Linked DNA regions of Homo sapiens. The protein of the gene in region 3 purifies or fractionates together with the protein of the main gene of each other region. This does not show direct contact. Each region holds a gene or a part of one and is shown on either strand. Other genes may lie near its edges. The genes, in order: KATNAL2, KATNAL1, TUBA3E and KATNA1.

Region 1 (7,874 bases), on a different chromosome or scaffold from region 3:
AGAGCCAAGAGTCAAGGAAAGAAAGCCTCTTAAAGAAGAAAAGAGTATGTCTGCATCTGGTTTAAAAAGTCAGAGCCTAGAAATAGAGACGTCGGGAGTCTGATGATATCATCATTGAAAATCTCCATGAAAAACACAATTAGCAGGAAAGACTACCATCCAGACTACGGACTTTTCCAGCTTGCACTGTGGAACCAGAAGGCAGTGAAGAACAGGCTTTGGAATTAGCTGACCTGCCTTTGATTTCTAGATCCTTCTCTTGCTAGCTGTGTGACTTTGGGCAAGTTCCTGGGAAATAAAATAGATTCCTGAGTTATAGGGTATTTTTCTAATTTCTATTGCTTCATATTTAATTGAAGACTGAAACCTAGGCAGGCTCAGAGGGGGGTTTAAAATGATCCCCAAAATTCACAGCTCCTCTGAGAAGCTAAGGGCTCCTGAGCTGTCTCTGTTCAGCTCAGCAGTTGTTTCCTGTATGCCTCTTGTGTGTCAGGTGTGTGCTGTGGGCTGGAGACACAAATGTGAACGAGTCAGAGCATAGTCCTTGCCCTCAAGAGTTTCTCATCCCAGGGACAAAGTGCACTTTAAGAGCATGAAGGAGGGAGGGGTGGGGAAAGTGTTAGGAAAGAAGACAGGAAATCGCTAAGGGAAAAAGTGGAAGAGGGAGGCTAGGAGCTGTTCTGGGCATAGGCACTTCCATGAGAAATTGCAGTTTGTGCACATGTCCTGTGGGCCACCTAAGAAGCAGGGAGTGGTGGGGAACGGGTGGAGAGAGGCAGGGTTCCTGAGGAAGGGTGCTGTGAGCAGTACCCAGGGCTGAGAACACACCTATAGAAGAGGGGACCTTAGAAAGGCGCCCGTCGGAGGATGGGATCATCCCATGTGCTTGTGGATGGCTTGTTCTATGACAGTGAGATGAATGAATAGCAAAGAAAAGGAGATGGGGAGACCATCTATAAGGTTTTTACCAGTGAGAGGGGATGAGGGACTGAGCCAGGCTGCAGTAACCCCAAATTAATAGTCTCATTACCATTTTTGCAAAAGGGTAACATGACTATGAGGATAGAACTATAGAGTGGAAATGGCCTGAGATGATTCCATCTGGAATCCTTTCTATAGTAGCATAGGAGGTAGAAACCCTGCTCCTGCTTGAATGCTTACAGTGACGGAGAGCTCACCACCTCATGAGGTAGTCCTGTTGAGTTCTGACTGTTAACTTTGGATTGATACAAGGAGAAACTGTCAGTTGGGAAATTAAACATTACCTTGTGGAACTCAACTCTAGAAGAGGTCAAGAAATACTGCTGTTATCTATGGATGCTTTTAATACCTAGGTAAATGAATCTTCCTTGTGTGCCGAGATTTCACTAAGAAAGGACGGTAATAAGAATGTGAGTGGCTGGTGGGCCTGCATGTAGATCCAGGCTCTATAGACAGAATAAGGAAGACTGAGTCCTTTCTCTACCCTTCAATCCAAGAATGGATTGTAAATATCATGCATGACCAAAGTACTTTTATAAATACTTTCTCTAGACCAGATGCAGTGGCTCACACCTACAATCCTAGCACTTTGGGAGACTGAGATGGGTAGATCACTTGAGGCCAGGGGTTTGAGACCAGCCTGGCCAACATGGCAAAAACCTATCTCTACTGAAAATACAAAACATTAGCCAGGAGTTGGAGACCAGCCTGGGCAACATAATGAGACCCCATTTCTAGAGAGCATTAGCTGGTATATGTGGGTTTCCCAAGATCGACTGTGGGACTTGAGTATGCACAGATTTTGGTATGGGGGAGAGTGTCGGGGGGGGAACAGGGAGAGGTTCTGGAACCAATCTCTTCCATATGCCCAGAGACCATTTCTAGAGACCCCATTAGCTAGGCATGGTGGCATGTGCTGGTAGTCCTAGCTACCTGGGAGGCTGAGGCATGAGAATCACTTGAACCTGGGAGGCGGAGGTTGCTGCACTGTAGCCTGGGTGACAGAGTGAGACTCCATCTCAGAAAAAACAAACAAACAAACAAACAAGAACTTTCTCTAATAAAAGTGAAAGTTGGCTGGGTGCAGTGGCTCACACCTGTAATCTCAGCACTTTGGGAGGCCGAGGCAGAAGGATCACTTGTGTCCAGGAGTTTGAGACTGGGCAACATAGTGAGACTCCGTGTCTACAAAAAATGAAAAAAAATAGCTGGGCATGGTGTGTGCCTCCTTGGGAGGCTGAGGTGGGAGGATTGCTTGAGCCCGGGAGGTTGAGGCTGCAGTGAGTGGTGATCATGCCACTGCCCTCCAGCCTGGGCTACAGAGCGAGACCCAGTTTGAAGAAAAATTAAAAATAAATAAAAATTTAAAAAATTTAAAAAAAATTTTAAAAAAATAAAAATGAACCTCCTATGGTGGAGGGAACTGGATGGGTGGGGAGCAGGAGTAGCACAAACATCTCACCAGCATTTAAAAAATGTATTTATATTTTTGGTCCATGTGCATATATTACTTATTAAAAATTATATAAATATAATAATTAGTTTCAGATTTTTTCTGTAGTCACTCAGAATGACTTTGGAAAGAAGGCTTTTCAGGCTTTTTTGAGGAAACACTCTAGATATTCAGTTTGCCTGAAACAACTCCTACTGAGAAAGGCCCCTTAGTGACTGCTCTGAGGCGTCTGGTGAAATTGAAGTTTGGAAACTGTAAATTAGTTATCAGTAAAAGCTACCTTAATTGATTATCCTAGATGGTTGCTACAGGGCTCTTCTATAAGAGGAGAAAAACTGCACTTTCGCTCGGTTGTCAGCTTCCTTGAATTCTGTAGAAGCAATTGCTCCTGCTGGAAGTAGGGAATGATCGCTAGCGAAAAAAGAGAAATTGGTTTCAGAGGAGCATTATCTCCTTTATGCAACAAATTAAGAAAGTGTTTGTGAGATCAAGGAGCAAGAGCAAGGCCAGGCACTGGCTAGGAACTATGTTTCACAGTAAAACCTAATGTAAGTTGAAGGCATATTCTGTAGCTTCTTTAATTATGGTTATAAATCAGCATGGTTTGCTATTGACTGAAAACAGGTAGAGTCTGTTGTTAGGAGATTTTTTTTTCTCTCTGAAAAATACCACAATGTGTTATCAATGTCTTCTTCAGGGAAAATCATTGAATATTTTCATGGCATACCTTTGGTGAACTAACCCAAAATTACAATGTATATATGTGTTTATATATATATATATATATATATATATATATATATATATATATATAATATGAACAGTTTTTATCACCAGCACTTTATATCCTATTGTAAGTCAAGTATTCTGCTGCTCCCAAGTTTATTACAGCTGTAGAGGAAAACATCAGTTTTAAAAAAATGATCAAATGTGCATTGCAGGACATTTATCTCCATAATCCAAACATAAAGTGGAATGACATTATTGGACTTGATGCAGCCAAGCAGTTAGTCAAAGAAGCTGTTGTGTATCCTATAAGGGTAAGGACGGGAAGCCTCTTGGGGGTTATTTCTGTTCACTATCCATTGGACAAGCTGTATGTCACACAACTATCAGGAAGGGAAGGGCAGGATGATTTTCTGTCCACACGTTAACTCTTTGCTTGTGTCACAGCACTTTCTCAACCCTGGAGCACCAAAGCCTGGTCCATTCTAGATCATTTAAAATCATATTACATATTAGTTCAAGACAGGTGTCTGAGCTAAGTGAAACTTTAAAATCTAAGACCATAGTATACATGATTTGTCAGATTGATTCAAATTAGCCTGCTCCCTTAAAAATATTCTTATTGTTGTAGAAATACCTCTGGTAGGGGAGAATCTCTCACTTTGTTTCCACAGATCCTTCCTTTACACCCCTGCCCCCCTGACCTACCCTCCCCAGGATCGTCTGGGGCTTTGCTTCTGGCTGGTTGTGAAGACTAGACAGCCCCTTCCAGGGCAGTGACCAGCAAAGCCAGCCTGTTGTGCTCATTACTTATTACTGACAAATCTCTGTGCAGTTTACAAACTGGGTAGAAAAATAGAAAAACAATACTCTCCATGTTTGATTTACAAATGGGTTAATGAGGAGATAAGTGATAACTTAGCTTTTGTTGTATAACAGACCACCCCACAACTTAGTGCCTTAAGACAACAATTTATTTGTTTGTAATTCCGTGGGTAGGCAGTTGGAGCTGGGCTCAGCTGGGCTGGCTCATCTCTTTTCCACGTGGTATTCTTGGCTGAGCTCAATCACAGGTCTGAGCCATCAGCCAGAGTAGCTGGAAAAGATGGAGAGACTGAAAAGGCTGGGACAAGCAGTACGGCCAAGGTGTCTCTCCATGTGGCCTCCATCCTCTAGCAGGAAAGTCCAGTCCTGCTCACATGGTGGCAGTGGGTTCCCAGAAAGAGGCAAGAAAGGGAAAGTTCTAATTCACAAGCATCTTTCATGCCTCTTATATTTTTTTGCTAGTCTTATATTTTCAAGTCTTTTACATTTGCTAATGTCCCACTGGCCAAAGTCACAGGGCCAGGCCCAGATTCAAATGTTGGAGAAATAGGCTCCATTTCTTGATGAAAGGAGCTACAAATAATTTGTGACCATTTTCTGTAATCTCCTGCTGTTAGGATTATGAATTTATTTTATTGAATAACCTATTTAGTCTTAAACCACTGAGCCCATGTGGCCCCTGATTTTTGGATGCTTTCCTCTAAGGAGACAAAAATCAATACATTTGGATTCTCTTTTCCCCCTCTTTCTTTCTGTGTTCACACTTAAGGGTAAGAAATACACTAGTGTTCAGAATTAATAGAAATTTACTCACCTTTTCCTCTAAATGGAACTATAAAACTTTTAAAAAGGATAGAACATCTCACTGAAATTCCCTGGATTTGTTGTCCCCATGGCATTACAAGCTCCATATGTGTGGAGATTTGACATCAGGATTAGCATGAAACTAATAGCTAGTTGTAATTTTACTAATATTCCTTGCCACACCCTCTCCCCCATTCTCTACCAACCCTTGCCACCCACATTCCCGAGATTGTTTGAATTTGAACTAATAGGAGAGACTTCCTGAAGGCTACGCATGTCCTGTTCAGCGTTGGTGTCTCTTAATGCGTTTGCCCCTGAATATTCCCAACTTCCAAAACAAGTTTCACCGTAGCTCTGTACTTTATTCGAATAAACCTTTACTAATTGGTTCTAGTATGTATTTTAAAGTTCATACCTGCTTTACAACATTCAAAAGATTGCCAAATGCTCTCCGTATAGAAGTCTGGGGAAAACGATGTTATGCATGTAAGAAATAACTGTTTAACGGAGAGGAAGAAATACCTACATATACCTTTCCTTCCAAAAAAATTGGTCCTTTAAAAAGCTGCAAAAATTGTCAGGCATTCTAATCAAGCGTGAAAATAAAATTGGGATGAATAAGATCTGTTTATTTCGGTCAGAAGCAGACAACCTTAAGCAAAAAAGGGAGCCCTGAATCTTAGAGCTGTGCTGCTTTGACTTCAGCTTTCCCAGCTTGTCTGTGCTGAGAGTATGCAGGCTGATGTGTTGGTACCAAACCTCATCCTTGTTCCTTGTTTCCTTAGTATCCACAGCTATTTACAGGAATTCTTTCTCCCTGGAAAGGACTACTGCTGTACGGCCCTCCAGGTAAACACAGCTTCCTATTTTGATGTCAGTGTTAAGTGTGTGTGCAGAGGATGAGTTGCCCCTTCTGTCCTCACTTCAGGACTGGGGCACACGAGAGCTGAGCAGTCACTTCCTTCCTTGTGTGTGAGACTGACTTCTGTCTATAAGCAGGGGGATGGAGTTGAAATGCCTGCTCATCTTTTATGTGTTTCTCTTTAGGTACAGGAAAGACTTTACTGGCCAAAGCTGTGGCCACTGAATGTAAAACAACCTTCTTTAACATTTCTGCATCCACCATTGTCAGCAAATGGAGAGGGGATTCAGAAAAACTCGTTCGGGTAGGAATTCTTAATTTTGTTTTTAAAAATAAGTTCTAGTGTAATACAGTGGTACAAAATGATGTCAGAGCTTCTTTGCTTTTAGGTGATTTTATGTGAGATCTCAAGATCCACTCCTGGATCTTGATTACCAGCAGCTTGGGAAATGGATTGTCTATTACGTGTGGATGTTAATTGTGCCCCCATCAGCAAAACATGATCTCCCTTCCTTTGGGAATTTGATCAACAGCTCTTTTTTTATTCATGCAATTTAGGCATGAAAGCTGGGGGAAAAAAATCTCTGACGTGGCATATTTTTTCTTCATTCAAGAAGTATTTATTATTTAACATGTACACTATATTTGGTTAACATTTATTGAGAGGCTACTACTGTATGTTAGTCCCTATGCTAGATACTCTAAGAAAGAATCAAGAAACTTTAAACTTCATTATTCTTTCAGATGTTCTGAGCACCTTTGCTTCCATAGTGCCCATAGCCTGTAAGATTTTTTGCTTTCTTTTTTTTTTTTTTTTTAGACGAAGTCTCGCTCTTGTCCCCAAGGCTGGAGTGCAATGGTGCGATCTTGGCTCACTGCAACCTCTGCCTCCCGGGTTCAAGCAATTCTCCTGCCTCAGCCTCCCGAATAGCTGGGATTACAGGTGCCTGCCACCACGCCCAGCTAATTTTTTTTGTATTTTTAGTAAAAAAAAGGGTTTCATCATGTTGGCCAGGATGGTCTCGAACTCCTGATCTCAGGTGATCTGCCTGCCTCAGCCTTCCAACGTGCTAGGATTACAGGCCACCACGCCAAGCGATTTTTTGCTTTCTTTCAGAGGTTGTTTCCATCTTTACAATATCACATTTATAGTTGATGTTATATTTTATATTATAAAATGGTACTGAATCTTCCAATGACATTAAGAGCACTTCCATTTATGGTTTAGGTCCCAGTGTAAGACAGGTCCTTCTTTGAAATCCTGTTAAACTATCACGCTCTGTAGAATGGCAGATATGTAATCAATATAAGTGAATATAAAATATTACGTATTTTCTGAAAAGTGATTAACAAATTATGCTTAAATTACATTCCCTTAGATGACTGTTTCAAAATATGATGGCCTATTTGGAAGTCATAATAGAATATGTTTAAAGGATTGATTTTCCTAAAATAACCTATTATCTATTACCTTGATATCATTTTCAAGTTGTTGTAAATATGTAAGCTTATGTAAATTCTTGTTACCCATTCAAGATGGTAATTTGTGGAAATCTACATTGATATCTTCTATTTCTTTGTTCTTCATCTTGCATCTAACTCAGTGCCAGTTCCGAAGATGGGGCTTGAATTTAGCTGCACCTACAGTTATGGTTCCATGTGATTTTAGTTAGCTGGAGGTTCAGTTACGGTTGGCCCTTGAACAACAGTTGGCCCTTCAACTGCACGGGTCTACTTATATGGGGAATTTTTTTCAACAAAATACAGTATTCACAGGATGCAAAACCCGAGTATATGTGGGTTTCCCAGGATCGACTGTGGGACTCCCCAGTAGCTGAGACTATAGATGCACACCACCAAGCCCAGCTAATTTTTGTATTTTTTGTAGAAACCAGGTTTCACCATGTTGCCCCGGCTCCTCTTGAACTCTTGGGCTCAAGCAATCCTCCCGCCTCGGGCTCCCAAAATGCTGGGATTACAGGCATGAGCCACCATGCCTAGCTTCTCCCTGCCTTTCTAAATACAAGTAGAAACATACTATGTTCCCTTTTGTACCTGGCTTTTCCCCCAACTTAATATGCACAGATTTTGGTACGGGGAAGAGTGTCAGGGGGAACAGGGAGAGGTTCTGGAACCAATCTCTTCCATATGCCTAGAGACGACTGTAGCTGAAATTCATCTCACTAGAATTCTTATCACCCTGAAGTCTTTTTTTTTTAAATA
Region 2 (7,874 bases), on a different chromosome or scaffold from region 3:
AGTTGTTGTCTCCTGTACTGGACTGCCTGGTATATTCAAGAGGAGTTGTATAAGGAGTGTATGATTCCTCTAACAACATTTATTTAAATTTAGAATGTGTGTTAATTTTGTGATACAGGATTGGCAGTTTGTTACACTATGATTAACAACACATTAATCCCTTGTTAAATCTTTTCACAAGCTTATTGAATATCAATTCAGTTTTTGTTTGAGATGGAGTCTTGCTCTGTTGCCCAGGCTGGAGTGCAGTGGCGCGATCTCAGCTCACTGCAAGCTCCGCCCCCTGAGTTCACGCCATTCTCCTGCCTCCCCCTCCCGAGTAGCTGGGATTACAGTTGTCCGCCACCACGCCTGGCTAATTTTTTTTGTATTTTTAGTAGACACAGGGTTTCACCGTGTTAGCCGGGATGGTCTCGATCTCCTGACCTCATGATCCTCCCGCCTCGGCCTCCCAAAGTGCTGGGATTACAGGCGTGAGCCGCCGCGCCTGGCCATCAACTCAGTTTTATGGAGCTGGTAAATCTTAAGAATATTCTAAAAAATTACTGACATAACCAGTTTTAAGTTACTTGTTCCCCACCCCCCCGCCACCAATCATAGTTACTAGGGAAACAGAATATGCTTTCTGCTAAGCTTCAGTACCACTAGGTCCTCACTTACGAACAGGTTTATGTATGTTCATTTTAAGTTGGCTGTCTGGAACTTTGTTTCAGTGGGAGAATATATTAAACTTTGTGTTAAGGAACTTAGGCCAGGCACAGTGAAACGTTTGATTTACACATACAGTGGTATTCTAATATTGGGTCTGTAAGAATGAAAAGGGGTATTTGTTCATTGTCATTCACTGGCTCTATGTGGAACATTGTGTAATGATGCTCTTATGTTAACATCAGTTCTTACCTGGACATCAGGCGCACATCAGCCTTCTGTATCGGTAGGCACAGGAGCTTCCTCCCCTCACCCCTTTCTCTCCCTACCCCTCCTGCCACCAGCCTGACTGGAGGACTTCTTTGGCTCTAAACCACATGTCGAGCAGGTGTACTCCCTGCGAGCCTGTTGGCTGGGATCAAGGATGGGGGCTCCTGGGATTAGGGAACTGTGGAGGTAGACGTTTTCCAGTCCTGCCCTTTCTGTTTTCTGGTAATCCCAAATCACACCTGCTTGCTGCTTTTGGCACTGCTCTGCTTGGTCTCACTGTGTGTTTGTGGTGTGTGAAACATAACTCAATACAGAAACAGTTCCTAAAATGTTTAGTTTATCCAGTAGCTGGTGAAGCAGACAGCCCTGTTACCCGCTCCAGGAGAAGTGGAGCCTCCCTGGAACTCAGCAGCTCCCAGCGTGTTCCCTCCCAGCATGGTTCCTTCCTGCCCTCTGCTGGGGGTCACCACCTTTCCCTTACAGTGATTTCCTTTTATGGAGATAATGTATTGCTTTTCCATATAATTTCATCACCTAACAATGTATCCCCAAGCAAAGTTTTACCTCCTTTTAAACTTTACATAAATGAAATCATACTGATTGTGTTCATTTGTATCTTGCCTCTTTTGCTCAATGTATTTTAAGATTTATCCATGTTACCACATATATATACCACATATAAGGCTGCCACCTCACATTCATTTTTGTTACTGTGTGGTATTCTGTCATATTCGTTTGCTAGGGCTACCATAACAAATATCAAAGATTGGGTGGCTTAAACAACAGAAGTTAATTTTCTTTTTTTTAAAATTTTATTATTATTATACTTTAAGTTTTAGGGTACATGTGCACAATGGGCAGGTTAGTTACATATGTATACATGTGCCATGCTGGTGTGCTGCACCCATTAACTCGTCATTTAGCATTAGGTGTATCTTCTAATGCTATCCCTCCCCACTCCCCCCACCCCACAACAGTCCCCAGAGTGTGATGTTCCCCTTCCTGTGTCCATGTGTTCTCATTGTTCAATTCCCACCTATGAGTGAGAACATGCGGTGTTTGGTTTTTTGTTCTTGTGATAGTTTACTGAGAATGATGATTTCTAGTTTCATCCATGTCCCTACAAAGGACATGAACTCATCATTTTTTATGGCTGCATAGTATTCCATGGTGTATATGTGCCACATTTTCTTTATCCACATTATCATTGTTGGACATTTGGGTTGGTTCCAAGTCTTTGCTATTGTGAATAATGCCACAATAAACATACGTGTGCATGTGTCTTTATAGCAGCATGATTTATAGTCCTTTGGGTATATACCCACTAATGGGATGGCTGGGTCAAATGGTATTTGTAGTTGTATATCCCTGAGGAATCACCACACTGACTTCCACAATGGTTGAACTAGTTTACGGTCCCATCAACAGTGTAAAAGTGTTCCTATTTCTCCACATCCTCTCCAGCACCTGTTGTTTCCTGACTTTTTAATGATTGCCATTCTAACTGGTGTGAGATGGTATCTCATTGTGGTTTTGATTTGCATTTCTCTGATGGCCAGTGATGATGAGCATTTTTTTCATGTGTTTTTTGGCTGCATAAATGTCTTCTTTTGAGAAGTGTCTGTTCATGTCCTTCGCCCACTTTTTGATGGGGTTGTTTGTTTTTTTCTTGTAAATTTGTTTGAGTTCATTGTAGATTCTGGATATTAGCCCTTTGTCAGATGAGTAGGTTGTGAAAATTTTCTCCCATTTTGTAGGTTGCCTCTTTTCTCTGATGGTAGTTTCTTTTGCTGTGCAGAAGCTCTTTAGTTTAATTAGATCCCATTTGTCAATTTTGTCTTTTGTTGCCATTGCTTTTGGTGTTTTAGACGTGAAGTCCTTGCCCATGCCTATGTCCTGAATGGTAATGCCTAGGTTTTCTTCTAGGGTTTTTATGGTTTTAGGTCTAACGTTTAAGTCTTTAATCCATCTTGAATTAATTTTTGTATAAGGTGTAAGGAAGGGATCCAGTTTCAGCTTTCTACATATGGCTAGCAAGTTTTCCCAGCACCATTTATTAAATAGGGAATCCTTTCCCCATTGCTTGTTTTTCTGAGGTTTGTCAAAGATCAGATAGTTGTAGATATGCGGCATTATTTCTGAGGACTCTGTTCTGTTCCATTGATCTATATCTCTGTTCTGGTACCAGTACCATGCTGTTTTGGTTACTGTAGCCTTGTAGTATAGTTTGAAGTCAGGTAGCTTGATGCCTCCAGCTTTGTTCTTTTGGCTTAGGATTGACTTGGCGACGTGGGCTCTTTTTTGGTTCCATATGAACTTTAAAGTAGTTTTTTCCAATTCTGTGAAGAAAGTCATTGGTAGCTTGATGGGGATGGCATTAAATCTATAAATTACCTTGGGCAGTATGGCCATTTTCACGATATTGATTCTTCCTACCCATGAGCATGGAATGTTCTTCCATTTCTTTGTATCCTCTTTTATTTCATTGAGGAGTGGTTTGTAGTTCTTCTTGAAGAGGTCCTTCATGTCCCTTGTAAGTTGGATTCCTAGGTATTTTATTCTCTTTGAAGCAATTGTGAATGGGAGTTCACTCATGATTTGGCTCTGTTTGTCTGTTATTGGTGTATAAGAATGCTTGTGATTTTTGTACATTGATTTTGTATCCTGAGACTTTGCTGAAGTTGCTTATCAGCTTAAGGAGATTTTGGGCTGAGACGATGGGGTTTTCTAGATATACAGTCATGTCATCTGCAAACAGGGACAATTTGACTTCCTCTTTTCCTAATTGAATACCCTTTATTTCCTTCTCCTGCCTAATTGCCCTGGCCAGAACTTCCAACACTATGTTGAATAGGAGTGGTGAGAGAGGGCATCCCTGTCTTGTGCCCGTTTTCAAAGGGAATGCTTCCAGTTTTTGCCCATTCAATATGATATTGGCTGTGAGTTTGTCATAGGTAGCTCTTATTATTTTGAGATACGTCCCATCAATACCTAATTTATTGAGAGTTTTTAGCATGAAGGGTTGTTGAATTTTGTCAAAGGCCTTTTCTGCATCTATTGAGATAATCATGTGGTTTTTGTCTATGGTTCTGTTTATATGCTGGATTACATTTATTGATTTGTGTATGTTGAACCAGCCTTGCATCCCAGGGTTGAAGCCCATTTGATCATGGTGGATAAGCTTTTAGATGTGCTGCTGGATTCGGTTTGCCAGTATTTTATTGAGGATTTTTGCATCAATGTTCATCAAGGATATTGGTCTAAAATTCTCTTTTTTGGGTGTGTCTCTGCCCGGCTTTGGTATCAGGATGATGCTGGCCTCATAAAATGAGTTAGGGAGGATTCCCTCTTTTTCTATTGATTGGAATAGTTTCAGAAGGAATGGTACCAGTTCCTCCTTGTACCTCTGGTGGAATTCGGCTATGAATCCATCTGGTCCTGGACTCTTTTTGGTTGGTAAGCTATTGATTATTGCCACAATTTCAGCTCCTGTTATTGGTCTATTCAGAGATTCAACTTCTTCCTGGTTTAGTCTTGGGAGGGTGTATGTGTCGAGGAATTTATCCATTTCTTCTAGATTTTCTAGTTTATTTGCGTAGAGGTGTTTGTAGTATTCTCTGATGGTAGTTTGTATTTTCTCATAGTACCGGAAGCTAGAAGTACAAGACCAAGGTGTAGGCAGGGTGGTTGCACTCTGGGGCCTCTCTCCTTGGCCTATAGGTGGCCATCTTGTCCCGGCGTCTTCATGTGGTCTTCCCCTTAGGGGTTTTTGTGTCCTAACCGCTTCTTCTTATAAGGACACCAGTCATGTTGGATTAGAGCCCACCCATATGACCTCATTTTACCTTAATTACCTCTCCTGTCTCTAAATACAGTCACATTCTGAAGTACTGGGGGTTAGGAGTTGCCTAAAAATTTTGAGGGACATGGTTTAACCCATACCATCTATTATGTGATTATATCAAAATGTATCCATCATATTGTTTGGTGGACATTTTAATTATTTCTTGTTTTAGGCTATTATGAACAGTGCTACTGTGAACATTTTCATACATGTATAGTGGTAAGAATGCCAGAATGGAGCATTCCATCCTAGGAGTGAATTGCTAGGTAGTGCCGCACAGCTGCAGTATTAATAGATGAATTCAATATGTTTTCCAAAGTGCTTGTGTTGCAGGATCCTTGGTGGCACCTTTGCTGGAGTTTTGCTTGAGCCCAGCGTTCTGACCACTGGGCCTGGCAGGCTGAGCTCGGCTGGAGCTACTGGCCCTGATCCCACGCCGGCCAAGGGCAAGCCAGGCACAGAGTGGTGAGGGGTGCATGAGCAAGCAAGCACCAGGGTCCGGCCACTGTGCATTGCCAGGCACGCTGGCTATTGGGTAGTCTGACTTTTTCTTGCTGATTTTTAGAAATTCCTTAAATATTCTTGATACAAGTCTTTGGTTGCTTATATATGTTACAAATATCTTCTCAAACTCTGTAACTTATCTGTTTTCACTGTGTCGACAGTATCTTTTGATGAATAGAAGTTCCTCATTTTAATGTGGTCAGTTTATCAATCTTTTCCTTGTTGATTTTTTTTGAATATATGTCTTGAGAATACTTCCCTGAGGTCATTGAGATATTCTTCTCTGTTATAAAATACTTACAACTTTGCATTTAGATGTAATATATCTGGCACTGATTTTTGTGCACAGTATGATGTAGGACCTGATTTCATTTTTTTCCCTGTGGATAGTCAGCTGTTCTTACATCATTAATTGAAAAGACACTCCTTCCCCTCACGGCCTGAACCACCTCTGTCATAAATTCAGTGTCTGTAATTATGCTTCGGTCTGCTGCTGGGCACCCCGTTCTGTACTATTGATCTATTTGTCTATTTCCACAAGAGGGTCACACTGCTTTGAGTCCTATACCTTTGTAGTAAGTCTTAAAATCTGATAGAGCATTTCTTTCCACTTTGCTGTTGCTCTTCCAGAGCATCTTGGCTGTTCTTGGTTCTTTCCATTTCTGTGAACATTTTGGTATCTGCCCGTTAGTTTTTACAGATAGACCTTTTAGGAGGATCTTTATTGGAATGCTTTGGCTGTATAAGATCAATTGGGGGAGAATTGTCAATTTCATGAAAGACAAAACAAAATGAACCAAAAAGTAAACACTGGGGAACTGTTTTAGATGAAAGAAGGTGAATGAGACATAGTAACTGACTGCAATGTGTTATGGTTTGTAAAAGTTATAAAGGCTTGGGACAAATAGGGAAACTTTGCTTTGAATTGTGTATTAGACACTAATATTCCAGTATTAAATCTCCTGATAAGGGTGAGAAATGCTATGTCTACCTTTTTTCTTAGGAGATACATGCTGGGGAATTTAAGGTGAAGTGTTGTGATGCCTGCAGCTAGCGCTCAATTCAAAAAGTTGAGGGAGGAGAGATGACGAGCCAGCTAGAGTGATAATGGCAAAATGTTAGCAATTGGTGAATCTCAGTGAAAGGGAAATGGGTATTCATTGATTTTCTTTTCCTGTATATATGGCATTTTTCAAAATAAAAGTAGAAGAAAATTAAATTTCATTTTGTATCTCAGGAAATAGTAGAGCGCCAGATAAACTAGTAATGCATTATCTTAGTGTGCTGTGCTAAGCAGATTTGCCACTAAAAGCACTAGTGAAATGGCAAGCATGATTGGTTATTTTAAAAATTCTCTAGTATGTTTGAACTTATTCAGTTCACATTTAAATCATACTGGAACAGCAAATGTCTGTGGGCTGGCTCTCCAAGTAAAAAATACATTAATGAGCTTTTTGTGCCAATTACTGATTTTCAGGAAATGTTCTTTAAACTACTGATAAGAGTTCTGGAGATCCATGTCATACTAACAGGTGAGCAAAGTAATTCATAGGAGTTACACTTGATGCAGTGTAATTTTGTAACACCAGGCTAAGTATTTTTTTTTTGAGAAGCATTTCCGGTGCTTGAAAACTGATATTTATATTTTTCATGAAGAATCTCAGATTCTTTGTTCTCATAGTAGGTATCTTCACAGTCTTTAAAGAAAACCTAGGTGGTTTTTGGTGTTTTTTTTTTTTTTTTTTTTCAATTTTTAGTTACTGCAACAGAGGCACATAGGAATTTAAATGATTCCATGAGTCATGCAGTGAATTGGTAATAATACTAATGGACACACAGTTATTGACTCTTCTTTGCATTGGCCTCATTTTTCCCCCAAATGTTAATATGTCATTTCTCAGCAAAATTATTTGTAAAGTAAAACATCTAACAACACCACCAAAATCTTGTAACAGCAAAAGGAAGAGCTGAGCTTCTGAAGATCAACCTTCGTGAGGTCGAATTAGATCCTGATATTCAACTGGAAGATATAGCCGAGAAGATTGAGGGCTATTCTGGTGCTGACATCACTAATGTTTGCAGGTATTTTTTTAATGATCTGTGATTTTAGACATTAGTTATAGACTTCGCAGGAGGACTGGTCTTAAAGTCAATGTAGTTAGCCCAGTGTAGTTAGACATGAAAGCAGCTACCCATTTCTTTAAAATGGTTTCCCATTTGTCCCTTTTTTTTTACATATAACTTTATTTTTCATTGTGAGATGAAAATTATATAGCAGTGGTCGTTGATGTTTTTGATCTTTGGATTTTTAAGAAATTGTTGTGTCGGTGGCTTACGCCTCTAATCCCAGCACTTTGGGAGGCCGAGGCGGGTGGATCACGAGGTCAGGAGATCGAGACCATCCTGGCTAACACGGTGAAACCCCGCCTCTACTAAAAAATACAAAAAATTAGCCAGGTGTGGTGGCGGACACCTGTAGTTCCAGCTACTCGGGAGGCTGAGGCAGGAGAATGGCATGAACCCGGGAGGTGGAGCTTGCAGTGAGCCGAGATCGCGCCACTGCACTCCAACCTGGGCAACAGAGCGAGACTCTGTCTCAAAAAAGAAA
Region 3 (8,448 bases):
ATTCCAAGGTGGTAACCAAAGGGGAAGCATTCCAAGTTTCAGAACTCGGTAATAACATGACCTGAGGTCCTGGCAGCAGTGCACAGGGTCAACTAGAGCAGGGATCAGCAAACTCGTTCTATAAATGACAACATCAGGCCAGGTGTGGTGGCTCAAGCCTGTGACCCCAGCACTTTGGGAGACAGGCGGGCAGATCACGTGAGGCCAGGGGTTTGAGACCAGCCTGGCCAACATGGCAAAATCCCATCTCTACTAAAAATACAAAAATTAGCCAGGCGTGGTGGCAGGTGCCTGTAATCCCAGCTACTTGGGAGGCTGAGGCAGAGAAGTGCTTGAACCCGGGAGGTGGAGGTTGCAGTGAGTCAAGATCGTGCCACTGCATTCCAACCTGGACGACAGAGCAAGATTGTCTCAAAAAAAAAAAAAAATTACCCGGGCATGGTGGTACATGTCTGTGTTCCCAGCTACTTGGGAGGCTGAGGTGAGAGAATCGCTAGAGTCTGGGAGGCAGAGGTTGCAGTGAGCCAGGATCACACTACTACAGCCTGAGAGACAAAGCGAGACCCTGTCTCAAAAAATAAATAAATAAATAAAGCTCACCACAGATATATAGTGTGATGACTCAGAAAGAGTTCAAAAGACATCACTGACCTGGGCGCAGTGGCTCACGACTGTAATCCCAGCACTTTGGGAGGCTGAGGCAGGCAGATCACCTGAGGTCAGGAGTTCAAGACCAACCTGTCCAACATGGCGAAACCCCGTCTCTACTAAAAATACAAAAATTAGCCGGGCATGGTGGCAGGTACCTGTAATCCCAGCTACTTGGGAGGGTGAGGCCAGAGAATTGCTTGAACCCGGGAGGCAGAGGTTGCAGTTAGCTGAGATCGCACCACTGCACTCCAGCCTGGTCGACAGAGCAAGACTGTCTCAAAAAAAAAAAAAAAAAAAAAATCACTGAATCAATTATCAACTCTGGTTCACTAACTTATGCCCACATGCCTAGCCCATGGAACAGGGATAGTCTCCCCAAAGGATGTGGGCCTTCAAGGCCAGTGTTATTTTGTGCATCTGCTGCTTGCTGAAAGGCCTCCATGTCACCCAGTCATACCTTAAATCCAGTCGGGCACCAATCCACAAACTGGATAGTGCGCTTGGTCTTGATGGTGGCGATGGCCGCATTGACGTCTTTGGGGACCACGTCCCCCCTGTACAACATGCAGCAGGCCATGTACTTGCCATGGCGAGGGTCACACTTGACCATCTGATTGGCTGGCTCGAAGCAGGCATTGGTGATCTCGGCCACAGACAGCTGCTCGTGGTAGGCCTTCTCAGCTGAGATGACTGGGGCGTAGGTGGCCAGGGGGAAGTGGATGCGGGGGTACGGCACGAGGTTGGTCTGGAATTCCGTCAAGTCCACATTCAGGGCCCCATCAAATCGCAGGGAGGCCGTGATGGAGGACACGATCTGCCCAATCAGGCGATTGAGGTTGGTGTACGTGGGACGTTCAATGTCCAGGTTGCGCCGACATATGTCATAGATGGCTTCATTGTCGACCATGAAGGCACAGTCAGAATGTTCCAGGGTCGTGTGGGTGGTTAGGATGGAGTTGTAGGGCTCCACCACGGCTGTGGAGACCTGGGGGGCTGGGTAAATGGCAAACTCTAGCTTGGACTTCTTGCTGTAATCCACTGAGAGCCGCTCCATGAGCAGAGATGCGAACCCAGAGCCAGTGCCGCCCCCAAAGCTGTGGAAGATGAGGAAGCCCTGCAGTCCTGTGCACAGATCCGCCTGAGAGAAACCAGACAACGTGAGCCAATGCCCGTGGAAGCCACACCACCAACCTCCAACAAGCCAGGGCCGCTTCTCTTTGCCTCTAAAGAGTTGATATGGATTCAAATCATCCATAATAAACATGCAATACACTTTGAAGCAAAGAAAAGCAAAGATCTACGGACAAATCACCATTGCAGACTCAGTAGGACTCAAGATGCTGGTCTAAGTTTTTGCTTGTTTGTTTGAGACGGAATCTTGCTCTGTTGCCCAGGTTAGAGTGCAGTGGTGCAATCTCAGCTCACTGCAACCTCCACCTTCCGAGTTCAAGCAATTCTTCTGCCTCAGCCTCTCAAGTAGCTGGCAGTACAGGTGTGTGCCACCACACCCAGCTAATTTTCGTATTTTTAGTAGACATAGAGTTTCACCATGTAGGCCAGGCTGGTCTCAAACTCCTGACCTCAGGTAATCCACCTGCTTTAGCCTCTCAAAGTGCTGGGATTACACGTGTGAGCCACCGCGCCCGGCCAAGATGCTGGTCTAAGTGTTGATAAAATGACTTCCCTTTCACATTCCAAGAACTACCCCTCCCATGCAAGACAATGGCCACATGAAACCTTCTCTTCTTACCAGTTTGCGGATCCGGTCCAGGACTAGGTCAACAATCTCCTTGCCGATGGTGTAATGGCCCCTGGCGTAATTACTGGCTGCATCTTCCTTCCCGGTGATCAGCTGCTCTGGGTGGAAGAGCTGCCTGTAGGTCCCTGTGCGCACTTCATCTGCAAAAGAGACAGTGTGTACTGTGAATTTTTAAGGCCTGTACTCACCAAGATGGACACATTCCAGGAGTGTTCACTTCTACAGAGCACATGCTGTTCAAAGTACATGACCTACATGTCATAGGTCAACAGTGGCAGTGTCTGGTAGAAAATGTCTCTGTGTGATAACCAAACTGCATATGCAATTTATGACTCTACGACGTTAAACTCAGCTTGTGGTATAAATGTCAGCACGACCAGTTCCCAGTGAAAGGAAATAAGCTCTTGCACTCCTACTCAGGTACATAATTCTTTCCTACGTGTAGCTACATCAAAGGCTGTAAGTTAAAAACTCTTACAACCTGGGCAGTCACCAGGTCAGTGTGACTTCTGCAGGGCAGTCCCATCAGGGCACCCTGGATGACCTGGGTCCCACAGGCTTTCAGGTGATGCTGTCATCTCCTGGGGGGCCACTGAAAGGTGCTGCCTCTTTGTAGCTCTCCTTGGAAACTACCTCAGGCTGCGAATCTGAAGGAAGCAAATGACTGTTCTGTACTTACCTTCTATGCCTAAGATGCAGGTCAAGACTCTCGTGCACCAGCATAAGAGAATGCACAGCATTCGGGAGGGAACCAATGCCACTGCACCCTGCAGGCAGGGCCACCTGAGCAGGGCTGAGGCAGCCATGAGGGAATCTCTTCACAGCCCATCTTACTGCTGGCAAAGCAGCTTTTCCCTGTAGGTCAGGTTTTCCTAAATTAGGAGCCGAGTCTCACAGACACTTTCATCACAAACCTTTCAGTTTCTCTCCTAACAATGCCATGGGCATATGCCTGTCTATCCCATCCTTTCAGCAGGAGGATTCAAAGGAGCCCACACGGGGCTTTACCAATGCTCTCCCACCCTCTCAGGAAAGCTGCCATCCAGTGCCCAGGCACCTACCGACCACAGTGGGCTCCAGGTCCACAAACACTGCTCTGGGCACGTGCTTGCCAGCTCCAGTCTCACTGAAGAACGTGTTGAAGGAGTCGTCCCCGCCACCAATGGTTTTATCACTTGGCATTTGACCATCGGGCTGAATTCCATGTTCAAGGCAGTACAGTTCCCAGCAGGCATTGCCGATCTGGACACCCGCCTGCCCCACGTGGATAGAGATACACTCGCGCTGTGAACCGGAACATAAATGTGAACCCATTCATTTCAAGGCAACTTGAAACTATATGGCATGCAAAATATTCTAATTTAATATTTATATAGTGCTTCAGTATCTGGCGCTTTCACAATCGATATTTCCTAGGAGGGTTAGTGACTGATCCCTTTATCGCTGTGAAAACTAATTGCTGTAAACCATACTAGCTAGTAAGTTCTAGAAGTAGCCCTAGAACCTGTTTGCCACTACACAAAACTTAGGTTATTTTAAAACTTGGAAGCCATTTAATGTCAATAATCAACCCCACATTATAGCCCGTCACAGTAATTCTCTGAAGAATAAGTAGCAGTTTTTGATTATGTCCTGATCAAAGGATAAGGTAGTCGGGTTGGGTAAGGAAATACAGAGTAGGTCCCAGGTCACCATGGTCCAAGCCCAGGTGCTCAGTGTGTGTCCTCTCTCTGCCCCCCAGTTCTACCCCGTCCATCATTCACCACCTGCTCTGTGCTCTCGAAGGCTGACCCTTGAGAACAGCATCAGAGGCCTTCCTCGCCCTCTGGCTTCTTGCTGGTTTGGTCAATGGCAGGCAGCAGTGGGATACTGGGGGGCTGGAGGAAAGCAGTGCCAGGGTACTCCCTCCTTGGCCCCTTCCTGCTCAACTGCTGTGGGTGACCTGAATCCCTCTCAAGGCTACACTTTTGGCAGGCTGCCCTCTTCATAAAACTACCCTCCTAATTTCTTGTAACCACGCCCTCTCTCTACCCCTTGAAGCCTACGGGTGTAATGGCTCCCAGACATCATCAGTGCTGGGACACTGCACTGTCCTTTGGTGGTTTCTTTAAACTCTGCCAAGCTGGGTGTGGTGGCTCATTCCTGTAATCCCAGCACTTTGGAAGGCTGAGGTGAGAGGATCACTTGGGACCAGTTTGAGACCAGCCTGGGTAACATAGTGAGTCCCTGTCCCTATGAAAAATTTACAAATTAGCCAGGTGTGGTGGCACACACCTGTAGTACCAGCTACTCGGAAGGCTGAGGCGGGAGGACTGCTGGAAGCCAGGGGTTCAAGGCTGCAGGGAGCCGTGATCTTGCAACTGTGTTCCAGCCTGGGCAACAGAGCATTTATTGAGTGCTGTCTCAAAAAAAAAAAAAAAAGAAAAGAAAAGAAAAAAGAAAAAGAAAGGAAAAAAAGGATAACTGACAAATCACAGCTATTCAGACTTGGGACTTGGGAATCTGTTATGTTAATGGGCTGCTTTTTTTGTTTGGTTTTTTGAGGCAGGGTCTCTGTGGCCCAGGCTGGAGTGCACTGGCGCCATCACGACTCACTGCAGCCTCAAAGTTCCAGGCTCGGCTGATCCTCCCACCTCAGCCTCCCGAGTAGCTGGAACCACAGACTCGCATCACCATGCCCGGGTAATTTTAGTATTTTTTTGTAGAGACTGGGTTTCGCCATGTTGGTCGGGCTGATCTTGAACTCCAGACATCAGGGGATCCGCCCGCCTCCACCTCCCCAAGGGCTGGGATTCCAGGCGTGAGCCGCCGCGCCTGGCCTAACGGTTGCCTTTAGGTGAACAAGGCAATGTTGCAGCAGCGTCTGAGCCTTAATTCCTCATCTGACCAATGTCCACAGCCCCAACCCCCGTCACCGAAGGCTCCTGCAGCTCCTCAGCTGTTTCCAGTAGCACAAAGACGTGTGAAGCGGGAGCAGCGCCCTCCTGTCTTCAGGAGGCGACGCCACTATTTGCTCTCTGGGGGACGGGATACCGTCAATGGTCCCCGTCCACTAAAGGCCGGCAGCTTCATCTAAAACAAAAGCCGCCGTCCCTGCCCTGGGACCTGCAGATCCAGGAAACGATCCCGTGTCCTCCTGTCCCGCACTAGACCCTGCGTCCTTCTCTGGCCTCCTCTCAGCGCCCAGGCCCGCAACAACGTCCCTCTGTCCACCCGAGGCCAACTTCGTCTGCCTGGGCATCTGCGGGGCGGGAGTGACCCGGGTCTTACCATGGCGAACTCCGCTGCTTCAGCCCAACGCTACTTCCAGACCTCAACCGGCTGCCACAGCTGCTGAGCGCCCAACTGCAATGACCTGCCCACGCGCGCCGCACAGGATTGGCCTGCCGGTGCCAGGCCGCCATTGGCTCGGAGTTCCTGGGAGGCAGGCCGAGGGCCGGATCCCAGTTCTGATTGGCCGTTGCTCAACACGTGTAGTGGGGATGCTCTCTGATTGGATGCAGGATTGGCGGGAAGGCAGCGGGGTCATCAAAGGCTGCGCGGTTGCTGAGGCATTTCCGGGGTGTCTTCCGACCAGGATTGGAACAGCTACTGCGCTGCCTCTGTGGGTCGCGGAACATTGCCTTGCTCCCAGTGTGCCACTGCCCCTCCCTGATTGCCCCAGGCCTGCTCCTCTCCCTGCCTAATTCAGATCTTTGCAAACAAGGCCACCTCTGAGAGGCCTTGCCGCCATCTACCCAAGTCACAGCAGCACCGCAATTATCCCCCTCTTCCCTGTTCCCACCCAGCACCCGGGAAGTGGCAGGATTCAATCACTTTTCTGACCCAAAGGGAGAAAACGGGCCGGGCGCGATGGCTAACGCCTGCAATCCCAGCACTTCGGGAGGCCGAGGCGGGTGGATCACTTGAGGTCAAGAGTTCCCGAGACCAGCCTGGCCAATATGGTGAAAACCCATCTCTACTAAAAACACAAAAATTACCCTGGCTGGTGGTAGGCACCTGTAATCCCAGCTACACGGGAGGCTGAGGTAGGAGAATCGCTTGAAACTGGGAGGCAGTTGTTGCAGTGAGCCGAGATTGGGCCACAGCACACTCCAGCCTGGGCAACAGAGCCAGACTCTGTCTCAAAAAAAAAAGGAAGAAAGGAGGCAAAATTAACGTAAGTGGAGAGGTTGGGCCAGGCACACCAGCTCATGCCTGTAATTCCAGTGCTTTGGGAGGCCACGGCAGGAGGATTGCTTCAGGTCAGGAGTTCGAGACCAGCCTGGGCAACGTGGTGAGTCCCACCTTGCCCGTTTCTACAAAAAATAAAATTAGCAAGGCATGGTGGCATGCGCCTGTAATCCCAGCTACTCAGGAGGCTGAGGCAGGAGAATCCCTTGAACCCGGGAGGCAGAGGTTACAGTGAGCTGAGATCACGCCACTGCACTCAAGCCTGGGTGACAGAGCAAAACTCCATCTTGAAAAAAAAAATAGTTTATTTGGGCCAAGTTTGAGAAGTGCAACCCTGGAGATGCAAGTTGTCTTAAAATATTAGCAGCAGTTATAAGTGGGTTTTTAAAGGAAAAGAAGAGGCAGTTCCTAAGTTGTTTACCAAGAATTTGAAATTAGAGAAGTCTTGCTGTGTTGTCCAGGCTAGTCTTGAACTCCTGACCTGAAGGGATCCTCCTACCTCGGCTGGCCTAGCCTGAGGAATTTATATTAAAATAACGTAAGCTATTTATTGGGCCAGGCGTGGTGGCTCACACCTGTAATCCCAACACTTTGGGAGGCCAAGGTAGGAGGATCACTTGAGGTCAGGAGTTCGAGACCAGCCTGGCCAACATGATGAAACCCTGTTTCTACTAAAAATACAAAAATTAGCCAGGTATGGTGGTGAGCACCTATAGTCCCAGCTACTTGGGAGGCTGAGGTAGGATAATCACTTGAACCCAGGAGGCAGAGTTTGCAGTGAGCCAAGATCATGCCATTGCACTCCAGCCTGGGCAACAGAGTAAAACTCCATCTCAAAAAAAAAAAGAAGGCAGGGCGTGGTGGCTCACGCCTGTAATCGCAGCACTTTGGGAGGCCAAGTCAGGCGGATCGCGAGGTCAGGAGATCGAGACCATCCTGGCTAACACGGTGAAACCCCGTCTCTACTAAAAATACAAAAAATTAGCCGGGCATGGCTGCAGGTGCCTGTAGTCCCAGCTACTCTGGATGCTGAGGCAGGAGGATGGCATGAACCCGGGAGGTGGAGCTTGCAGTGAGCCGAGATAACACCACTGCACTCCAGCCTGGGCAACACAGCGAGACTCTGTCTCAAAAAAAAAAAAAAAGCTATTTATTGTCTCTACATTGTCTACATTGTCTTTGGTATCACAAATTCCAGGAACAGGAAGATAATGGGTTGAGCTAGTCAGGAACAAAATGCCTTTAAACAGTCACCCCAGGGCATGAGTACAAGGCGTGTGACTGAAGTCCATATTCCTGTCTCTCTGGGCCTGATAAATTCTGCACACCTCACATAACTCAAAGTGCTGTGAACACTTTTTCTTATTTCTTTGGTGAGAGGGAGTGGGTTTATGGCCAACAGGAAAGGGGAAGGCACACCCCTGTCCCGGGAAGAGCAGAGTCAGGACCCAATACCCATTTTGGAGGACTTTGGAACAGTCACCTGATTCTTCCTTTTTATTTATTTATTTTTTGACACTGGTTCTCACTATGTTGACCAGGCTGGACTCAAATTCCTGGCCTCAAGTGATCCCCAAGCCTCAGCCTTCCTTGTAGGCTGGGACTACAGGTGTGTGATTCTTCCCAGTTTGAGTCTTCCATCCCTAAAGATCATCTTAGTGTGTATTCAGTTCTGGGGAAAGCCCTGGAGGAGACGTGCTGGCTTACCCCCAGCTCATCACCAGGATGCAGCATCCCACCATGTCATCTCCCTGGAGGGTGGCCAAGCAGGCCCTTAACTTTCCCTCCTGAGAGGAGAGCAGAGAAGAGAGAGGGAGCTCCCCCAGTGGGATGGGACTCACGAGGTCCAGGAGTTGAGACTTTTC
Region 4 (7,874 bases), on a different chromosome or scaffold from region 3:
AGATCGGGAGTTCGAGACCAGCGTGACCAAAATGGAGAAACCCTGTCTCTACTAAAAATACAAAATTAGCCAGGCGTGTTGGCACATGCCTGTAATCCCAGCTACTCAGGAGCCTGAGTCAGGAGAATCGCTTGAACCCGAGAGGCGGAGGTTGTGGTGAGCCGAGATTGCACCATTGCACTCCAGCCTGGGCAACAAGAGCAAAACTCCGTCTCAAAAAAACAAAAACAAAAACAACAACAACAAAAATACCCGAGGCCAGGCATGGTGGCTCACGCCTGTAATCCCAGCACTTTGGGAGGCCGAGGCGGGCGGATCACGAGGTCCCAAGATCGAGACCAACCTGGCCAACATGGTGAAACCCTATCTCTACTAAAATACAAAAATTTAGCCGGGCGTGGTGGATGCATGGCTGTAGTCCCAGCCACTCTGGAGGCTGAGGCAGGGGAATCGCTTGAACCTGGGAGGCAGAGGTTGCAGTGAGCCGAGATTGCGCCACTGCACTCCAGCCTGGCAACACAGTAAGACTCCATCTCAAAAAAACAAAAACAAAACCCAAAAAAACCCAAAAAAACCCCCACCATACTTACAGAAATCATCTGGGCCTGGAGCTTTTTTGTCTTTTTTTAATGTTTTCTTGAGACACAGTCTCACTCTGTCTCTGTTGCCCAGGCTGGAGTACAGTGGCACTATCTCGGCTTACTGCAGCTTTGACCTCCCCAGGCTCAGGTAATCCTCCCACCTCAGCCTCCTGAGTAGCTGGGACTACAGGCACACACCACCATGCTCTGCTAATTTTTGTATTTTTTGTAGAGATGGGGTTTTGCCGTGTTGCCCAGGCTGGTCTTGAACTCCTAGGTTCAAAGGTTGGATTAGGTTCTCATATATAGAAAGTTTCATGGCAGACACATTTAACATTTATTGAAGACCTACTATTTGTCAAGTAGTATGCTTAGTACTTTAAATAGCCATTTATTGTTTATAGCGTAACTCCTGAAAGTAGTTGCTATGGCAGTTCCACAGATATTAAAACAGGCTTAGAAAAAAGTTAAGGGACTTGATTAAGGTGGCACAATTATAATTCTAGCCAAGATTTTTCTAACTTCAAAATACATACGCCTTCTGCTAATCCACACTGCTTCAAAAAATGTATCTAATATTCACTATTTATTCTGCAGATGTTTAATAAAATGTGTGTCATGCAAGGATCATATAGTCTCACACCTTTCAGATGCAAATCCTACTGTCAGATAACAGTCTACTAGAGATAAGACATATATAGAAACTGTAATTTGAAGTAGACAAGTGTCTTGGGATGAAAGTCACAGTAAAGTGCAAGGGGACTTTAGAGGAGGGAGAGTTTATTTTGAACTGAGGAGTTCAGGGGGTAGACATACTAGGAAAACTGCCATCTGAGCTGGGCTTTGACAATAGGGAGGGTTTGAATGTGGGAACTTTTTTAAAACAATGTTTTAAATTTATTTTATTTTATTTTTTTATTTTTTGAGACAGAGTCTCATGCTGTTGCCAGGCTGGAGTGCTGTGGTGCGATCTCGGCTCACTGCAGCCTCCGACTCCCTGGTTCAAGTGATTCTCCTGCCTCAGCCTCCTGAGTAGCTGTGATTACAGGCACGTGCCACCATGCCCAGCTAATTTTTGTATTTTTAGTAGAGACCGAGTTTCACCATGTTGGCCAGGATGGTCTTGATCTCCTGACCTCGTGATCCACCCACCTCAGCCTCCCAAAGTGTTGGGATTACAGGTGTGAGCCACCGCACCGGGCCTGTTTTTTGTTTTGTTTTGTTAAACAGAGTCTTGCTCCATCTCCCAGGCTGGAGTACAGTGGCACGATCTTGGCCTACTGCAACCTCTGCTACCCTGGTTCAAGCAATTCTTGTGTCTCAGCCTCCCAAGTAGCTGGGACTATAGGCATGTGCCACCACGCCCAGCTAGTTTTTACATTTTAGTAGAGACAGGGTTTCGCCATATTGGCCAGGCTGGTCTTGAACTCCTGGCCTGAAGTGAGCTGCCTGCCTTAGCCTCCTAAATAAAATATTTCTTTGAGGCCAGGCGCGGTGGCTCATGCCTGTAATCCCAGCACTTTGGGAGGCCGAGGCGGGCAGATCACCTGAGGTCAGGAGTTCGAGACCAGCCTGGCCAACATGGTGAAACCCCATCTCTACAAAAATACAAAAAAAATTAGCCGGGCATGGCGGTGGGTGCCTGTAATCCCAACTACTTGGGAGGCTGAGGTGGGAGAATTGCTTGAACCCGGGAGGCAGAGGTTGCAGTGAGCCGAGATCATGCCATTGCGCTCCAGCCGGGGCCACAGAGCGAGACTCCGTCTCAAAAAAAAAAAAAAAAAAAAAAAACAATGTTTTTTTTAAAGGAGTGAAATAGCATGAGCACACATATAGAGATGGGAAGTGTGGTATGTGTGATTGTTTCTTGAGGGAGCCCTGGAAAGTATTTTTTAATAACTATACTTATTTTTAAGAGACATGTAAACCTAAAGTGTTTCTTTTTTTCTTCTTCTTTTTAGCTTACAGTTGAACATGAGTCTTCTTATGATTAGTGAGAATGTAAAATTGGCTCGTGAATATGCATTGCTGGGAAACTATGACTCTGCGATGGTCTATTATCAGGGAGTTCTTGACCAAATGAACAAGTATCTGTACTCAGTCAAAGATACATACCTCCAGCAGAAATGGCAACAGGTGAGAGTAATGGCTGCTGTATGTTTTAATGGCTTAAGTACTCGGAAGAGAAAATTTAGATCAGATGTCAATGCTGTATGTAGTTACATGTTAAGACTGTATGACTACCGAGCACAGTACACAGTGGCTCACTCCTGTAGTCCTAGCACTTTGGAAAGCCAAAGCAGAAGGATCACTTGAGGCCAGGAGTTCAAGTCCAGCCTAGACAACATAGCAAGACTTCATTCTACAAAAATAAAAAAATTAGCCAGATGTGGTGGTGTGTGCCTGTAGTCCTAGCTACTAGGGAGGTTGAGGTGGGAGGATCACTTGAGCCTGGGAGATTGAGGCTGCAGTGAGCTATGCTTGTACCACTACACTCCAGCCTGGGCAACAGAGCTAGACCTTGTCTCAAAAATAAAAAACAAAACAAAACATGAGTATGTGAGTTATTACACAGATTTCTATATAATATTACTTGACACTTTATTATATGAATAATAATCCACTTTCACCATCAGCAGTATTATGAGTTCTACTTAATTCTAATTGCTGGAATCTAATAAGAGGGGTTTTTTTTGTTTTGTTTTTTCCTCGAGACAGAGTTTTGCTCTTGTCATCCAGGGTGGAGTGCAGTGGCACGATCTCGGCTCACTGCAACCTTCACCTCCCAGGTTCAAGCCTCCCGAGTAGCTGGGATTACAGGCGCCTGCCTCCACACCCAGCTAATTTTTGTATTTTTGGTAGAGACGGGCTTTCACCATGTTGGCCAGGCTGGTGTTGAACTCCTGACCTCAGGTGATCTGCCCACCTTGACCTCCCAAAGTGCTGGGATTACAGGCATGAGCCACCACGCCTAGCCAAGAGTTTTTTAAAACAATGGTTTTGACATTTTTTGATCAGATTTTTACTTCGTAAAAATAGAGTAGACTTTATTAAGCCATTGTCGAAACTGTAAATGGCTTGTGAATCTCACAGGTACCATATTTTTTAAAAAACTTTTTGAGAGAGGGTCTTGCTCTCTTGCCCAGGAGGGAGTGCAGTCTCTACAGCCTTGACCTCCCAGGCTCAGGCTCAAACAATCCTCCCACCTCAGCCTCCTGAGTGGGTGGAACCACAGGTGTTCCCCACTGTGACCTGCTAATTTTTCAATTTTTGGTAGAGATGGGATCTCCCTATGTTTGCCAGGCTGGTCTCAAACTCTTAGGCTAAAGTGATCCTTCCACCTCAGCCTCCCTAAGTGCTGGGATTACAGGTGTGAGCCACCATGCCTGGCCTCATATTCCTTGTATAATAGAACTTTATGAAGCAGATTATGTTGAATCCCATTGAGAAACTTCAGTTACTGAGGACTAACAAAAATTTAAAATTGGAAATTGTAGAACTTACAGGTCCAGTGGAGGGTGGTATTTCTAACAAGGCTCAACTATGTCAAAGAGGAAAAAAAGGTTAAGAAAATAAGTCTTGCGGGGCATGGTGGCTCACGCCTGTAATCCCAGCACTTTGGGAGGCTGAGGTGGGCAGATCACCTGAGGTCAGGAGTTCGAGACCAGCCTGACCAACATGGTGAAACCCCATCTCTACTAAAATACAAAAAAATTAGCTGGGTATAGTGGCGGGCATCTGTAATGTCAGCTACTTGGGAGGCTGAGGTGGGAGAATCACTTGATATCAGAAGGCAGAGGTTGCAGTGAGCCGAGATCGCACCATTGCACTCCAGCCTGGCAACAGAGCAAGACTCTGTCTCAAAAAAAAAAAATGAAAGTAATAGTCTTTTTGAGGTGGTCTTCTAGATAGAATATTATACCTCAGATTCTGCTGAGCTGCTTTTTAAATATTGTTCAATATTTGTCCTTAATTTTTTTGAGAGAAACAGCCTATCTCTTTGAACTTCATCTATTTTCCTATATCTGTCCCTCCATATCCTTTACCATATCCATGTAATTACCAGAAAGGGCAACTATTTTATTTTATTTATCTTTTATTTATTTATTTTTTACAGACATGGCATCTCACTATGTTGTTCAGGCTGGTCTTGAACTCCTGGGATCAAATGATCCTCTTGGCTCCGCCTCCCAAATTCCTAGGATTATAGGCATGAGTCACCATGCTCGGCCTAGTAAATATTTTATTTCATAAGGAGTCTTAAGTTTGTCAGTGAAGGACTTTTTAGATCTTTTGTTGTTAGGCCAAAGACTTTTACTTAAGTCTAAGCTTTTGTTTAAAGGTACTTAAGATTAAATCATTTAAGTTATAAAGCAAAACATTATCATCTTAAATTTCATTTCAATATTATATATATAGTTTATTTTTATTTTTATTTTTTACCATTTTCTGGTTTGTTTTCTTTTGAGATGGATTTTCTCACTTGTTGCCCAGGCTGGAGTGCAATGGCGCGGTCTCAGCTCACTGCAACCTCCACCTCCCGGGTTCAAGTGATTCTTCTGCCTCAGACTCCCGAGTAGCTGGGATTACAGGAGCCCACCACCACACCCAGCTAATTTTTGTATTTTTAGTAGAGACGGGGTTTCACCATGTAGCCAGCTGGTCTCAAACTCCTGACCTCAGGTGATCTGCTTGCCTCGGCCTCCCAAAGTGCTGGGATTGCAGGCATGAGCCACCATGCCTGGCCTACCATTTTCTTATTGTGGTAAAATATACATAACACTTTACTGTTTTTTGTTTGTTTGTTTGTTTTGAGACGGAGTCTCACTCTGTTGCCCAGGCTGTAGTGCAGTGGCGCAGTCTCGGCTCATTGCAACCTCTGCCTCCTGGGGTCAAGTGATTCTCCTGCCTCAGCCTCCCGAGTAGCTGGAATTACAGGTGTGTGCCACCACACCCAGATAATTTTTTTGTACTTTTAGTAGAGACGGGGTTTTTGCCATGTTGGCCAGGCTGGTCTGGAACTCCTGACCTCAGGTGATCTGCCCTCCTCAGCCTCCCAAAGTACTGAGATTACAGACGTGAGCCACTGCACTTGGCCTTGGCCATTTTTAAGTATACAGTTCAGTGGCATTAAATACATATATAATGTACAACCATCACCATATATAGTTTTTAGGCTGAGTTAAGACCCATTACTATAATACAGTTGAATCAAAACTATATATAGGTTTTTGAGGGTTTTTTGGAGGCAGAGTCTCGGTCTGTTCCCCAGGCTGGAGTATGGTGGTGCAATCATGGCTCACTGCAGCCTTAACTCCTCAGGCTCAAGCAATCCTCCCACCCAGCCTCCAGAGTAGCTGGGGCCACAGGCACAAACCAACATGCCTGGCTTATATTTTTTTTAGAGATGGGTTATTGTTATGTTGCCCAAGATTAGTTTTTAAATTGCGTCAAGATTCCTTTTCTCTTTTATTTTTGAGGTGGAGCCTTACTCTCAAAACTAGGGCCATTTTACTGCATTCCAGACTGGATGACAGAATGAGACCCTGTCTCTAAAAAATATTTGAAAAAAAAAAAAAAGACTGCTTTTAAAAAAATACCTTGGTTGCATATGAATTGAGACCTATTTTAGTCTGTAGGTTGTGACCCATTAGCCATAAAATTAGTATATTCTGATCAGTGTTGTATTGATTTTTAGAAATTATTTACTGATATATAATAGTTGTACATATCTTGGGCATACACATTATATTTTGATTCCTGTATACAATATCTAATGATCAAATCAGGGTAATTGGGATTAATCAGCATTTTAAAAGTTAATTAAACAGAATAAAAATTATCAAAGTAGGGCTGGGCATGGTGGCTCACACCTGTAATCCCAGCACTTTGAGAAGCTGAGGTGAGAGGATGGCTTGAACCCAGGAGTTTGAGGTTATGGTGAGCTATGATCGTGCCACTGTAGTACAGCCTGGGCAACAGAATGAAACCTTGTCTCTAAAACATAAAAATAAAAGTTTGACAAAAATGAAACTTTCACAAGTTGTGCTTTGATGGTTTTTTTTCCCCCTTGGGCTCAAGCAATTCTCTCACCTCAGCCTCTAAAGTAGGCAGGACTACAGGCATGGGCCACCATGCCCAGCTAATTATTCTTGTAGAACTTTAAAGTTATGCCTAACTTTTCAATTTGTTATGCAATTTATTTTATTTTATTTTATTTTATTTTATTTTATTTTATTTTATTTTTTTGAGATGGAGTCTTGCTCTGTTGCCCAGGCAGGAGTGCAATGGTGCGATCTCGGCTCACTGCAACTTCCGCCTCCTGGGTTCAAGCGATTGTTGTGGCTCGGCCTCCCAAGTAGCTGAGATTCCAGGTGCCCGCCACCACACCCAGCTAATTTTTGTATTTTTAATAGAGATGGGGTTTCAACATGTTGGCCAGGCTGGTCTTGAATGCCTGACCTCAGGTGATCTGCCCTCCTTGGCCTCCCAAAGTGTTGAGATTACAGGTGTGAGCCACCGCGCCTGGCCTGTTATGCAATTTATTTATTTATTTATTTATTTGAGCCGGAGTTTCACTCTTGTTGCCCAGGCTGGAGTGCAATGGTGTGATCTCCGGCTTGCCGCAACCTCCGCCTCCCAGGTTCAAGCGATTCTCCTGCCTCAGCCTCCCGAGTAGCTGGGATTACGTGCATGTGCCACCACACCCGGCTATGCAATTTAAATAAGAATATAAATTAGTAGTATGATTTAGTTAGCCTGGATTTTTTTTTTATTTTTTATTTTTTTGAGACAGATTCTTGCTATGTTGCCCAGGCTGGAGTGCAGTGGCGTGATCTTGGCTTTCTGCAACCTCCATCTCCTGGGCTCAAGAGATTCCCCTGCCTCAGCCTCCCAGGTAGCTGGGCCTGTAGGTGCCTGCCCCCATGCCTGGCTAACTTTTTGTATTTTTAGTAGAGATGGGGTTTTTACCATGTTGGCCAGGCTTGTCTCAAACTCCTGAGCTCAAGTGATCCATCTACCTCAGCCTCCCTAAAGTGCTGGGATTACAGGCGTGGATGTTTCCTATCCTGGATGTTTTAATTCATTTTATCAGAATTAATTTTGCAATTGAGGGCCGAGCGCAGTGGCTCACGCCTGTAATCCCAGCATTTTGGGAGGCCTAGGCGGGTGGATCACGAGGTCAGGAGATCAAGACCATCCTGGCTAACATGGTGAAACCCTGTCTCTACTAAAAATACACAAAATTAGCCAGGCGTGGTGGCGGGCGCCTGTAGTCCCAGCTACTCGGGA

The links.
Region 1: the proteins of TUBA3E (region 3) and KATNAL2 purify together in Homo sapiens (tandem affinity purification; one large-scale study listed by IntAct). This does not show direct contact.
Region 2: the proteins of TUBA3E (region 3) and KATNAL1 purify together in Homo sapiens (tandem affinity purification; one large-scale study listed by IntAct). This does not show direct contact.
Region 4: the proteins of TUBA3E (region 3) and KATNA1 purify together in Homo sapiens (tandem affinity purification; one large-scale study listed by IntAct). This does not show direct contact.

What each region holds. Positions count from the first base shown.
Region 1 is NC_000018.10:47,063,646-47,071,519, forward strand, and holds part of KATNAL2 (katanin p60 ATPase-containing subunit A-like 2), read left to right. Parts: intron 1-3,375; coding exon 3,376-3,474; intron 3,475-5,574; coding exon 5,575-5,638; intron 5,639-5,836; coding exon 5,837-5,955; intron 5,956-7,874.
Region 2 is NC_000013.11:30,209,790-30,217,663, reverse strand, and holds part of KATNAL1 (katanin p60 ATPase-containing subunit A-like 1), read left to right. Parts: intron 1-7,221; coding exon 7,222-7,348; intron 7,349-7,874. UniProt on the Homo sapiens protein: Regulates microtubule dynamics in Sertoli cells, a process that is essential for spermiogenesis and male fertility. Severs microtubules in an ATP-dependent manner, promoting rapid reorganization of cellular microtubule arrays.
Region 3 is NC_000002.12:130,192,678-130,201,125, forward strand, and holds the start of TUBA3E (tubulin alpha-3E chain), read right to left. Parts: upstream 5,763-8,448; 5' UTR 5,684-5,762; coding exon 5,681-5,683; intron 3,695-5,680; coding exon 3,472-3,694; intron 2,551-3,471; coding exon 2,402-2,550; intron 1,790-2,401; coding exon 1,109-1,789; intron 1-1,108. UniProt on the Homo sapiens protein: Tubulin is the major constituent of microtubules, a cylinder consisting of laterally associated linear protofilaments composed of alpha- and beta-tubulin heterodimers.
Region 4 is NC_000006.12:149,633,229-149,641,102, reverse strand, and holds part of KATNA1 (katanin p60 ATPase-containing subunit A1), read left to right. Parts: intron 1-2,542; 5' UTR 2,543-2,555; coding exon 2,556-2,717; intron 2,718-7,874. UniProt on the Homo sapiens protein: Catalytic subunit of a complex which severs microtubules in an ATP-dependent manner. Microtubule severing may promote rapid reorganization of cellular microtubule arrays and the release of microtubules from the centrosome following nucleation.